Linked DNA regions of Homo sapiens. The protein of the gene in region 3 purifies or fractionates together with the protein of the main gene of each other region. This does not show direct contact. Each region holds a gene or a part of one and is shown on either strand. Other genes may lie near its edges. The genes, in order: UXS1, DGKE and HEATR3.

Evidence for each region.
Region 1: the proteins of HEATR3 (region 3) and UXS1 purify together in Homo sapiens (co-immunoprecipitation; 3 studies listed by BioGRID and IntAct, with this or other methods). This does not show direct contact.
Region 2: the proteins of HEATR3 (region 3) and DGKE purify together in Homo sapiens (co-immunoprecipitation; 2 studies listed by BioGRID and IntAct, with this or other methods). This does not show direct contact.

Annotation. Positions count from the first base shown.
Region 1 is NC_000002.12:106,192,170-106,195,915, reverse strand, and holds the start of UXS1 (UDP-glucuronic acid decarboxylase 1), read left to right. Parts: upstream 1-1,614; 5' UTR 1,615-1,674; coding exon 1,675-1,768; exon of another isoform or gene 1,769-2,642; coding exon of another isoform or gene 2,643-2,718; intron 2,719-3,746. UniProt on the Homo sapiens protein: Catalyzes the NAD-dependent decarboxylation of UDP-glucuronic acid to UDP-xylose. Necessary for the biosynthesis of the core tetrasaccharide in glycosaminoglycan biosynthesis.
Region 2 is NC_000017.11:56,832,516-56,836,261, forward strand, and holds the start of DGKE (diacylglycerol kinase epsilon), read left to right. Parts: upstream 1-1,635; 5' UTR 1,636-1,745; exon of another isoform or gene 1,746-1,954; coding exon of another isoform or gene 1,955-1,990; intron 1,991-2,262; coding exon of another isoform or gene 2,263-2,280; coding exon 2,281-2,744; intron 2,745-3,746. UniProt on the Homo sapiens protein: Membrane-bound diacylglycerol kinase that converts diacylglycerol/DAG into phosphatidic acid/phosphatidate/PA and regulates the respective levels of these two bioactive lipids.
Region 3 is NC_000016.10:50,082,842-50,086,587, reverse strand, and holds part of HEATR3 (HEAT repeat-containing protein 3), read right to left. Parts: intron 2,652-3,746; coding exon 2,561-2,651; intron 2,481-2,560; exon of another isoform or gene 2,455-2,480; coding exon 2,297-2,454; intron 2,020-2,296; coding exon 1,937-2,019; intron 374-1,936; coding exon 237-373; intron 1-236. UniProt on the Homo sapiens protein: Plays a role in ribosome biogenesis and in nuclear import of the 60S ribosomal protein L5/large ribosomal subunit protein uL18 (RPL5). Required for proper erythrocyte maturation.

The DNA.
Region 1 (3,746 bases), on a different chromosome or scaffold from region 3:
TTCCATTTCTGCTCCTCATCTTTAATCTAAAAACCACGGAGTCATGGAATGGGAAAGGCCTAGAGCTCCACTTGCTCTAGTTCTCTTTTCAAAAACCATAGCCAGAAAGCCACGAGGAAATGCAGACTTACAAACAAAATCGATTTGTTCCAAACTGGTGTGCTCTGGGGGCCTGGCCCCTCTGGGAACCCAGGACTCAGGCTCCCATGCCAGGTGTTTTGTCACTTGGCAGCCTCCTTGGACACGTCAGAGTCAGGGAGCTGGGCTTCTCGAAAGAAGTCCACTCCATCTATGGGCAGCATGCATAGCAGGGGCAATCCGCCTTAGCAAACCGCTCAGTGTTTCCTCCTAGTCAGGGATTCTCAACAGGTTTAGGGGAGGGGTAGGATGGAGGTAGGTTTTATCAGAATCACATCATTTGCACTATAGTTTGAAAGATGTAACATAAAGCTGCTGCTTTAGTACCAGCTGCCATATTTCCTTTTCTTGGAGGTTTCTAATAAATCTAAAGGAGGGTGATCTATTAAGTTTTGCAAAATGGCCTGAGGTTCCAAGAGGTAGGAGAGCCGCTGCTGACTTCAACTTCTCCGTATAGCTGAAGATGACCTCTTGAAGCCTGCAGATCCCAAATCCGGGATCTCTCTTAATGTGGCATCACACACATCTGTGTGTACCTGTCTTTTTTTCCTCCATGGGACCAGCTCTCTCCAGATCCAATGACAAGCTTCCGATTATCTGTGGATCTTCTGATACATCTCCTTGCTTGTAATCATCATTCAGTAAATGCTTTTTAAACACAGGTACCTCCTATGCAATCAGTACAGCACTCATAAAACAGATATACTCAACAAAAAGATTGAATGAAACACACACGACAACATGGTCAGGGTTTTTCTCTAGGCAGAGACAGCGCAATTTCATCTTTTCTTTTCCAAGTCTATCCTAAATTAATATACTTAGCACTGCTTTTTAAAATAATAATAAAAGACTATTATTAAAACAAAGGCACCCCAGTTGATCATAGCCAAGGAAAAAAAACGCAGCCAGTTTTTACTTCGGCAAGGTTTAGGGGATTTATCATTTTCGCTGCCGATATTCTAACTAAAAAAAGCCAACTAAACAGCCCAGAGAACGAGGCAACTTTCTGAGGCAGGCATTCAACTTCTAAGGCTCGGCCAAGTTTAGCAAATAAGTTTCGTTTCACTGCAACACCGGAATGCCCACCGCGTGCCCCCCTCCGGGCGGGGCTCGGAAACTGGCCACTGCAGTCGTGCCCTTGGGTTGGGGACGCACCTCAGCGAAACGAATCCAGCCGCACCTCCCGGCTGGCACCCGCGCGCTTTAACTCAGGGAAAACAGACCGGAACGCGCATGCGCCGCGGCGCGCCGCACCGCCCACCAGCCCTCCAGGTCACATTCTTCGAAAACCAAGGCAAGAAAGGCGGCAACTGCGCCTGCGGGTAGAGAAGCCGGAGGGGCGGGGGCGGAGCCGGAGGAAGGGGGTGGAGGCGCGCCTGCGCGGTGATCCCGCCAGCAGGAAGCAGGCGCGCGGGGGCGGGGGCGCGCGGCGGCAGGAGGCGGGGCTCTCGGGGCCGCTGCCGCCGCCGCCGCCGCGCATTGTGCAGCAGGCGGGCCCCCGCGCGGTAGGGCCCTGGACCCGCGCGGCTCCCGGGGATGGTGAGCAAGGCGCTGCTGCGCCTCGTGTCTGCCGTCAACCGCAGGAGGATGAAGCTGCTGCTGGGCATCGCCTTGCTGGCCTACGTCGCCTGTGAGTGCGCGCCCGCTGCCAGCTGGGGAGCCCCATTCATTCCCCGGCGCCGCGGTGGGCCGGGCGGCGGTGGTTCGGGGCCCCGAGGCGGCCCTGCAGCCCCGCGTTGCTCCCCGCCCCGGGCGGGGCCGGCGCTTTCTGCTCCCACCCCTTTCCACTCTTGCAGCAAAGCGGGCCAACTTGGGCGCACACCCCCTACCGCTTAGGCCCGGGCGCGGACCCCGGGCGGAGGGGCCCCTAGCAGTCCTCGGGCGGCCCCAGGTCTCTGCCTCCTGCCCGGGCGCGGGGGACTCGGCGGCGGCGCTGTCGTCCATGTCGCGCTGGGAGCCGGCGAGGGTCCCGGTCGGGGACTCCGGAGCGTGCCGCGTGGGGATACCCTTGGGGACAGCCGAGGTCGCGCCGCGGTGTCGGTTAAGTCGGATAAAAATACTGTGGCCATTGGCAGAGCCCCCGCTCCGACTGTTTGCTCCTCAGGAAAATTACTCAGCGTTTAACTCTTGGGGAGCCAAGTGTGGGCGGCTCCCCGGCCCGCGGCCGTGCCCAGGTGTCGGGGCGCACCGGCATCCCCATTCTAGGTTTTCCCCCGGGGCTCGGCGGCCGGGCGAAGCAGGCAGGCAGCTGGGTGGCCGGGCAGGGCGTGCCTGCAGCTTCTCTGTGCGCGGGTCCAGTTTCTGTCATCGCTCACAGCATGCTGCCTGGAGACAGGGCAGGAGGGGCACTTCGCAGGCAGGTGGTCGGCCCTCTGCTTGTTAGGGAAGTCAGAAACCGTCCTTTTAAAGATCTATTCGTTGGGAATGTTTTAATTGATGCTATTAATACGTTACCAAGTAGCAAAATTGGACTAGAAATAGCTCCCAGTGTGAGCTGCGTTTGAATGCTAGCCACCCAGACACACACTGAAATGAAATCACCTGCTAACCTGTTGGCGTTACCAAGATCTGATTCCAGAGGTGAGTGGGTACTTCACTTGTCTGAAGTGACTTCAGTTGAGCTCTAGGAAGGCAAGTATGAGTAGATCCAGCCTGTGTGCTACAGCCCAGCTGTTCAGGAGGTGGAGCTGGAAAACCCCAGCAGGACTCCGGGTTGCTAGGGGAGGTTTCAGGCGTCGGATGGGTGTTAGATGTGTGTAGTTTTGCAAGGGAGGAAGAACTAGTCTAAAGTGTGTGTGTGGTCAATCTTGAGTAAGAAAGCTGAGACCCAAGAGGAAAGACCATTTAAAGTTGAATAACTATTATTATGGCAGTAATACTACCTACATTTGTTGAGTGCTTAACTGTGTGAGTCATGATTCTTAGTGCCATTGTCTCAATCATTGAGCAACCCTGGGAAATCGGTACTATAATGATTCCTATTTTAGAGGTGAGGAAGTTAAGGCCAAGAGAGATTAGGAAATTTATGGATGATCACACAGATAGTAAGAGAAGGAGGGCCAAAATTTGAACCCAGAAAGGCCTGGGAGCAGGAGCTAGAACCCAGGTCTTCGAACAGCAGTTTCAATGTTTATTTTGGGGGTATTCTATAGTCGCTGCAAGGGTTTAGAATTAATAAAGTAGGGGATTTATGGAGCCATGGGAAGTTTTTTTTTTTTTTTTGAGACGGAGTCTCGCTCTGTTCAGCCCAGGCTGGAGTGCAGGGGCGCGATCTCGGCTCACTGCACGCTCCACCTCCCGGGTTCACGCCATTCTCCTGCCTCAGCCTCCCAAGTAACTGGGACTACAGGCACCCGCCACCACGCCCGGCTAATTTTTTGTATTTTTAGTAGAGACGGGGTTTCACCATGTTAGCCAGGATGGTCTCGATCTCCTGACCTCGTGATCCGCCTGCCTCGGCCTCCCAAAGTGCTGGGATTACAGGCGTAAGCCACCGCTCCCAGCAGGAAAGTTTTTTAACCAATCATTCATCTGACCAGGAAATCTTACCAAGTCCTTACTGTTGTCCCTGAATTTGGCACTAGGAGACACCATGGGGTGCTAAAACT
Region 2 (3,746 bases), on a different chromosome or scaffold from region 3:
GCAATCACCAGGAAGCAAAGGGCCTATCTCCCAGTTACTGTGGGAGGATAGGACCCTGACTCCCATAACAGCCATCTAACAGGCACTGTCGCCTAACCTTACTTACACTGACCCACCCTTCACAAGTTTCACTTTCCTGACTACTGAGTTCCTGCTCATCCCCTTCACATTCCCTCCTCCTCCCTCTTAAACACCTAGTCACTTCTGCACAAAGTTCAGTTCCGTTCACGAGGTACCTTCTTCCCTATTACAATAGTATATTATTAAAATCTGCTTTACCACTTTTACTAGTGTCTAGCTTTATCTTCTACAGTTAATACAAATATACGCACATACACATGCATATATATGCACACATAATAATATATACATACACACATACACGTATATATACATCTATATGTGTATTCTTAATGAATGTTATGTCTTCTCTAATCGTTTGGAAGATATTATCAAGTATTTCTTTGCAGTTTTCCTATGATCTCTGCGTTTCTTTTCTGTTCCTTTGGTCCCTTGCTTCGGTGTGTGTTTTCTTTCCATCTTTTATGCTAGAGGAAGTCCGCAAGCAACAAGTGGTCCTCGGCTCCCACTCCTATGTATGTATGTAGTAGGAAGGAAGCCGCTGAGTGCAGCTGTGCGCGCCGGGGCGGTGCCTGTGCCTCTCTGGATTCCGTGTTTCTTCGGGGGTGCTGAGCAGCGGTGCTTCCGCGTCCGCGTTCTCCGGGTAGCTGATGTGCTGCAGGCTGCAGCCCGCGTGGTCGCGGCTCAGGTCCGTGTTGGGCTGGTAGGACTCCAGCGGGGAGCGAGCATTCCTCCGGAACCTGGGGCTGGACGACAGCAGCAGGAGGCGTGCTCCCATCTCCGGTAGTCCCCGGCTCCCGCTGCTCCCCTTTCTCCCCGGCCTCGGGCGCTGGCGGGCGCGGGCGAGGGGGTAGCGCAGGGGAGGCCCGCCCGCCACGGCAGGGGGCGGAAACCGCGGCCGGGCTCGGGGTCAGCGGCGACGAGCGGGCGGCTGCCCCGCTCGCCCTCGGCCTCCGCGCCCGCCCGCCGCTCCGCAGCGGAGGAGCCCTCAGGTTTGCGTTACTGCGGCCGCCACACCTACCTCAGCCCGCCGCGGCCAGGTCGGGCGGTGCCGCGCAGGCCGCCTCCCCCCCTCGCTTCCCAGTCGGCTTACGCATCCCCGGCGGCGGCGGCGCCGGCATCGGCTAGAGGTTCGGCTCAAGTCGGGGGCACTCGTGTCTGCGCCGAGCGGCGGGCGTGAGCGCGGCCCCTGGGCCCCGCGCGGCGCGGTGCTGCGAGGAGGATCCTCGTGGCCTTGCCCCGCCGGCGGCTTTCCAGAATTTTCTACGATTACGAAGTTTTGGCATTCAACCCTCCATCCTCTCAAACGCCCCACTGTTACTCCGCCCCCTTCCCCTAGGCCCCGCCCCCAGCCGCAGTGCCCTGCCTCTTCCATCCGTCTCCAGCCTCCTCCACGGCCCCGCCCCCTCAGGCCGGTCCGTCTCCCCTCCCACCTCACACCTCCGCCCCGCCCGTCAGCCCTGGCTCCGCCCAGCCACGGGGCTCGCCGCCACAGGCCCCGCCTCCAGCTCGCGGCCCCGCGCGCCGGATCGGCGTGCGTGCGGCTGGAGCCTTAAGCGTTTCCCCCGCCCGGCTTCATCCCTGCTGGCGGCCCAGCGTCGTTCTCCTCCTGCGCGAGGCGGCCAAGGCCTGCTGGCCCGGAGCCGCGCCTCCACCCGCGCGAGGTAGGGCTTCGAGGACCGGCGCGGCGCAGGTCTCCGGAGGCCTCCCGAGAGGGGCTAGGGTCGCCGGGCCGCGCGTGGGAGCGGGTGGGGCCCGGGAGGAGACGGCGCCCCGGAGGGGAGTGCGAGGCCTGGGCCGACGGTTACGGGCGCCGACCGGCGTTGCCTGGCCTGAACGCCCGGCCTTTCGGTGGAGGGCAGCTTGCCCCTGTATGTTGCGCCCTTCCGTGGGTCAGACCGGCGGCAAGGTGAGGCGGCGGCGGCAGCAGCAGCCGCCTTGGGCTCCTGGACGCGCTCCCGAGGTGGGGCGGGTTGGGGAGTGGGGATTGGAGCGTGATGGCTGGACGTCGCCTTCTCGGCGCGGCAGGTCCCGGGAGACGGGGGGACGAGGCGCAGTCCCGCCCTCGGGAGAGCGGAGCCACCTTCACTGAGGGCGCCCGGTTTGGCCCCGGAAAGGCAGGAAGGGGGCGGGGAAGGGATGGCGAGCTCGGGGTGCACCGCCTGTTTCTTTTCTGGTTAGGTATCGTCCTTGGAGAAGATGGAAGCGGAGAGGCGGCCGGCGCCGGGCTCGCCCTCCGAGGGCCTGTTTGCGGACGGGCACCTGATCTTGTGGACGCTGTGCTCGGTCCTGCTGCCGGTGTTCATCACCTTCTGGTGTAGCCTCCAGCGGTCGCGCCGGCAGCTGCACCGCAGGGACATCTTCCGCAAGAGCAAGCACGGGTGGCGCGACACGGACCTGTTCAGCCAGCCCACCTACTGCTGCGTGTGCGCGCAGCACATTCTGCAGGGCGCCTTCTGCGACTGCTGCGGGCTCCGCGTGGACGAGGGCTGCCTCAGGAAGGCCGACAAGCGCTTCCAGTGCAAGGAGATTATGCTCAAGAATGACACCAAGGTCCTGGACGCCATGCCCCACCACTGGATCCGGGGCAACGTGCCCCTGTGCAGTTACTGTATGGTTTGCAAGCAGCAGTGTGGCTGTCAACCCAAGCTTTGCGATTACAGGTATGGTCTTCGTGGACACTCACTGTCCCAGAATGCGCCGTGGGAATCAGGATTTCATAGAGTGGTGTAGAGGCCTGCTTTAATCTCTGCTGATGACCTAAACTCATTTTGAGGAAACAAGCTAATAAATAAACATCCCTGAGTTTGTGCAAGCGTGGCAGCTTTGCAGTAGTCATTTGCTGAGACGATGCATCCAGCCTCCACTCCTCAGCCAGCCTGCCCTTTTGGGTAATAAAACTTGGCTCCTAACGTTAATACAGAGGTTTCTAAGTGGTGCCTGCTTCATGGCCACTGTATATTTTAGCTTTTGTTCCTATCGATTATCTCCTTATTTTAAATAAGGAAAAATGAAATATGGACAAATTAACTTTTCCCTTCAGCCGCAAAACTGATGGGTCACAGGTTTTGTACTATGAATGTGCAGTGAAAACAAGTGTCATTCCAAGGCAGCACTTTTATGTCTTTTGCTAATATAGCTGTTGGTACCATAGCGAAATATACTCAAAAAGAACACTGAAAGGAATATTCCTTTTGACGCTTGGTCTTTCAGGACATGTAGAATCTTAGATAAGTGACCTTGATTAAGCCAAGAATATTTTAATGTCTTTTATATACACACTGGACAACACATTTTTGTCCTTAAATATTGTTTGAAAATAGGTGAAGATGTCCTTTGCTGATGTTGGAAATTGGTAAAGGAGAATGCTGCTTTGCAAATGATCTATTCTAACTCAGTTCACAGTTGAGAAAATTAAAGCCCGTTAGGTCCACTCTGGTAAAATAGGACTGGCCTCCAGGATTTCCAGCTCTGGACTAACACTTAGCCTCCTTTGAGCCTTAAGTCTGGACATCTTCATTGTAATGGGTTTTATTTCTGACAAGTAGAAAGGCGCATAAACATGCTTAAGAAATGAAATAGGCAGTAAATAGGAAGCTGCTTTTTAATTTTTTTAATTTTTTTTGCAGAAATTCTTTCATTAGCATGAACGCTATTATAATGTC
Region 3 (3,746 bases):
CCTGATATAACTGGATGCAAACAATTTTAACAAAAAAGAAAATTATAAGCCCAGGAGCTGCTTGCATACCTCGTTTTGACTCTGTACCCCATGGCAACTATAAATACATGATTCCTGTGTCTGGGAAAGGTTTCTGCACATTGGATGACAAACAATATACATTTACAAAATCCAAATTCCTGCCCCTTCAAAATTCTGTTCCGTCTGCGTAGTCTTTCGCAATAAAGTCTAAATACCTGGTTGAGAAAAAAGCAGCTGTGACAGATGCTGTGCAAGCGTCTGAAGGGCTGCGGCTCCTCCCAGGTGCTCCACATCCAGGAGGGACACAAGACTCTGGAGACAGAAGAGGGCTCTGCACTGAATAGTGTTCATTCTGGAAAGGAAGTGAAACAATGCCATCTGATTCTCCAGAAGTTGCCCATCAGAATTCAGTATTAACTTTTAGCCTAAGCTTCACGTTCTGACTGGAAATATCTGTAAATACAAGGTATCTATGGCAGTTAGCAAAGAATCACAAGGTGAACTGTTTTTTGTGTTTTCTAAAATTTATCATCATTTTTTAGACAGGGTCTTACTCTGTTGCCCAGGCTGGAGTGCAGTGGTGTGATCACAGCTCGCTGTAGCCTCAACCTCCTGAGCACAAGTGATCCTCCTGCCTCAGCCTCCTAAGGAGCAGGATTACATGTGCATGCAACCACACCTGGCTAAGTTTTTTATTTTTTGTAGATAGGGGTCTTGCTATGTTGCCCAGGCTGCTCTGGAACTCTTGGCCTCAAACAATCCTCCTGCCTGTACCTTCCAAAGTGCTAGAATTATAAGGTGAACTGTTAATCTGCCAAATCAAACTGCTTGAATATTCACGGCCTCTGATACACAACTCATTCATGAGTCATGAGGAATATGTTTTAGAAAAATTTCTATGTAGGGTAGCATCCTTAAAATTATAATTTTCTTCAGACAGGGTCTCATTCTGTTTCCCAGGCTGGAGTACAGTGTCACCATCATAGCTCACTACAGCCTTAGACTGCTGAGCTCAAGCAATCCTCCCACTTCAGCCTCCTAAGTAGCTAGGACTACAGCTGAGTGCCACTATGCCAGGCTAATTTTTGTATTTTTTTTTCCTTTGTAGAGATGGGGTCTTGCTATGCTGCCCAGGCTGGTTTCAAACTCCTGGCCTCAAGTGATCCTCCTACCTTGGCCTCCCAGAGTCCTGGGATTATAGGTGTGAGCCACCATGCCCAGCCTAAAATTATTTTTAATTGTGAAATGTGACATATATACAGTTAAGTACACAACATACATAGAGAGTTTAACAAACAGTCTATGAAACCAAAACCCATGCACCTGGGAAAGAAATTAACACTGCTGGACCCTGAAAGCCCCTGTATCTCTTCCATATAATATCCCACCTCCCTGACACCTACAGGTAAGCACCATACAGACTTCTATGGTAAACATTTCCTTGCCTCTTTTTTTTTTTAATAGGTTTATCACCAAGGTATGCATCCCTGAACAAAATAGTTCAATGTTGCCTGTTTCTCAACTTTGTAAAAACTGAATCACAGTGTGTGTATTCTTTTATGTCTCGCTTTTTTGGTTCAACAATGTAAGTTCCATCCGAGTTGTGAGTAGCTCTAATTCAGATCCCTTTTACTGCTGCATGTATTGTACTGCGTGATTTTGTCAAAATTTATTTACCATTCTAACTCTGATGGACAACACGTTTGTTTATGGGTTGGGGCAACTGTGACACACACTGCTATGAACACTCTCATATACATGTATTCTAGGGCATGTGGGCACATATTTTTCTGGTATATATACCCAGGAACAAAACTTCTGGGTCCTAGGGGGAGTCAGCACCTTCTATTTAATAGCCCATCATTTCATAAAATAAAATAATGACAAATGTTTTTGAAAGCAGAAGAGTTCTTACTTTCTAATCAAAGGTTTCCAAGTAGGGTTCCTAGAACATAGGTCAACTGCAATGCTGTTTGGAAAGGCAGTTTTCTCAAAAATCTAGATTTAAAAGAGGCAGTAAAGCAAAGGTTAAAGAGTAGTCATTTAACACGATTCCCTTACATAATTCCAACATATTACTCCTAAGTGAAATGGTTAGGCTTCATATAGAATGACCTTTTCGCCTATTTCCAGTACTGTTAGGCTCAGCTTTGTCTCAGATCTTACCACCATCTACAACCTGGAAGTGTGAGCTTGCTTCTTTTGTACACAAAATGAATACCTTGCTTAAGCCTTTCCCATGCTCCACGGTAAGCCTAGAATGAAAATGGATTACCTTCTTTGGGATGAGGTAGTTGGTGAGAGCCGTGTGAACTTCATGGGAGAGGCAGAGGGGAGAAAACAGCTGTCCCCCGCACTCACTGAAGGAATTCTCCATAAATGCGTCACTTTCATCACTGCTAGAAAGCTCTTCCCATTCGTCATCAGAGGGATCTGGGAAGCGGGCAAACCACGCAGAACTGGAATAGTTAAGAAAATCTCCACGGGAGTTTCCCTCTTGGCTCAGGGGGAAAATGTCTAAATGTAAATGTTAACAAACCTTCATTGCAGCACATGTTGACAATAATTTCCAGAGCAGTCTGTTGGGCTGTCAGCAATGCTATAGTCTCTCTCAGTTCCTTGTCAGTGGGCTTAAAAAAAAAAAAAAAAGTAAATGACCAACTCTCAATGGTTGGGAAAATGTTTTTGGGGAATTTCCTTAGTGAAAGCCTACTAGAAGATTTTTGCGCTTGGAATAGAGCACACGGGGAATGGGGTAGGTAAAAGAAAAGTCATGAAGTGCCAGAAGTACAAACGAGCATTATAATTCCTCTTGGTACAGTGGAGCATGCCCCCGTTAACTGGGTTTCCATCTATCTGCATGGCTATTCCCCAAGCGTCACTTAGTTAGCTGGAGAGAACAGACAAATATTCAGGAATTCTGAACAGAATTCACCCTGAAACTTATCTACTGTGTCAAGAAGTAGCTGGGCATACTAAGATTTAAACAAGAGTTCATTTCAGACACCAGGCACTTAGAAACACCAAACCTGCTTTTAGATGCTTAGCTTAGATGTCTTTCTTGGAATGGCTGCGCTAACACACACTACTAACGAGCCCTTATGTGACCTGTAGAACTTGCTATGGAGCAGACAGACTTGCTTCCTGCCTTTCTGTAAAGACTATAATAAAGCATTTCTCTAAGACTAAAGAAAGAAGGAAGCTTTTTTTTTCTCTGAAAATATATAACGCCAACTTAAACTTAACATTATCAACCAACATTTCTTAAAATGGGTAATATAAATTTATATAACCTTAATTATCAAATTGTCTATGGAAAGTGAAATAACCATACTGATATTCCAAAACAGTACATGAGCTAAAAATAATGTATATTTTACTATTTGAATATTTCCAAACTTCAGTTTTCAATTGTCTTTTTTTTTCCCCCTTAGAGACAGAGTCTCACTCTGTTGCCTAGGCTGGAGTGCAGTGGCACGTTCATAGCTCACTGCAGCCTCAAATTCCTGGACTCAAGCAATCCTCTTGCCGCAGCCTCTGAGTAGCTAGGGCTACAGGTGCATGCCACCATGCCTGGCTAATTTTTTTAATTTTTGTAGAGACAAGGTCTTAGCCAGGCATGGCGGTGCATGCCTGTAATCCCAGCTACTTGGGAGGCCAAGGCAGGAGAATCCCTTGAACCCAGGAGGCAGAGGTTGCAGTGAGCCGAGATTGTACCACTGTGC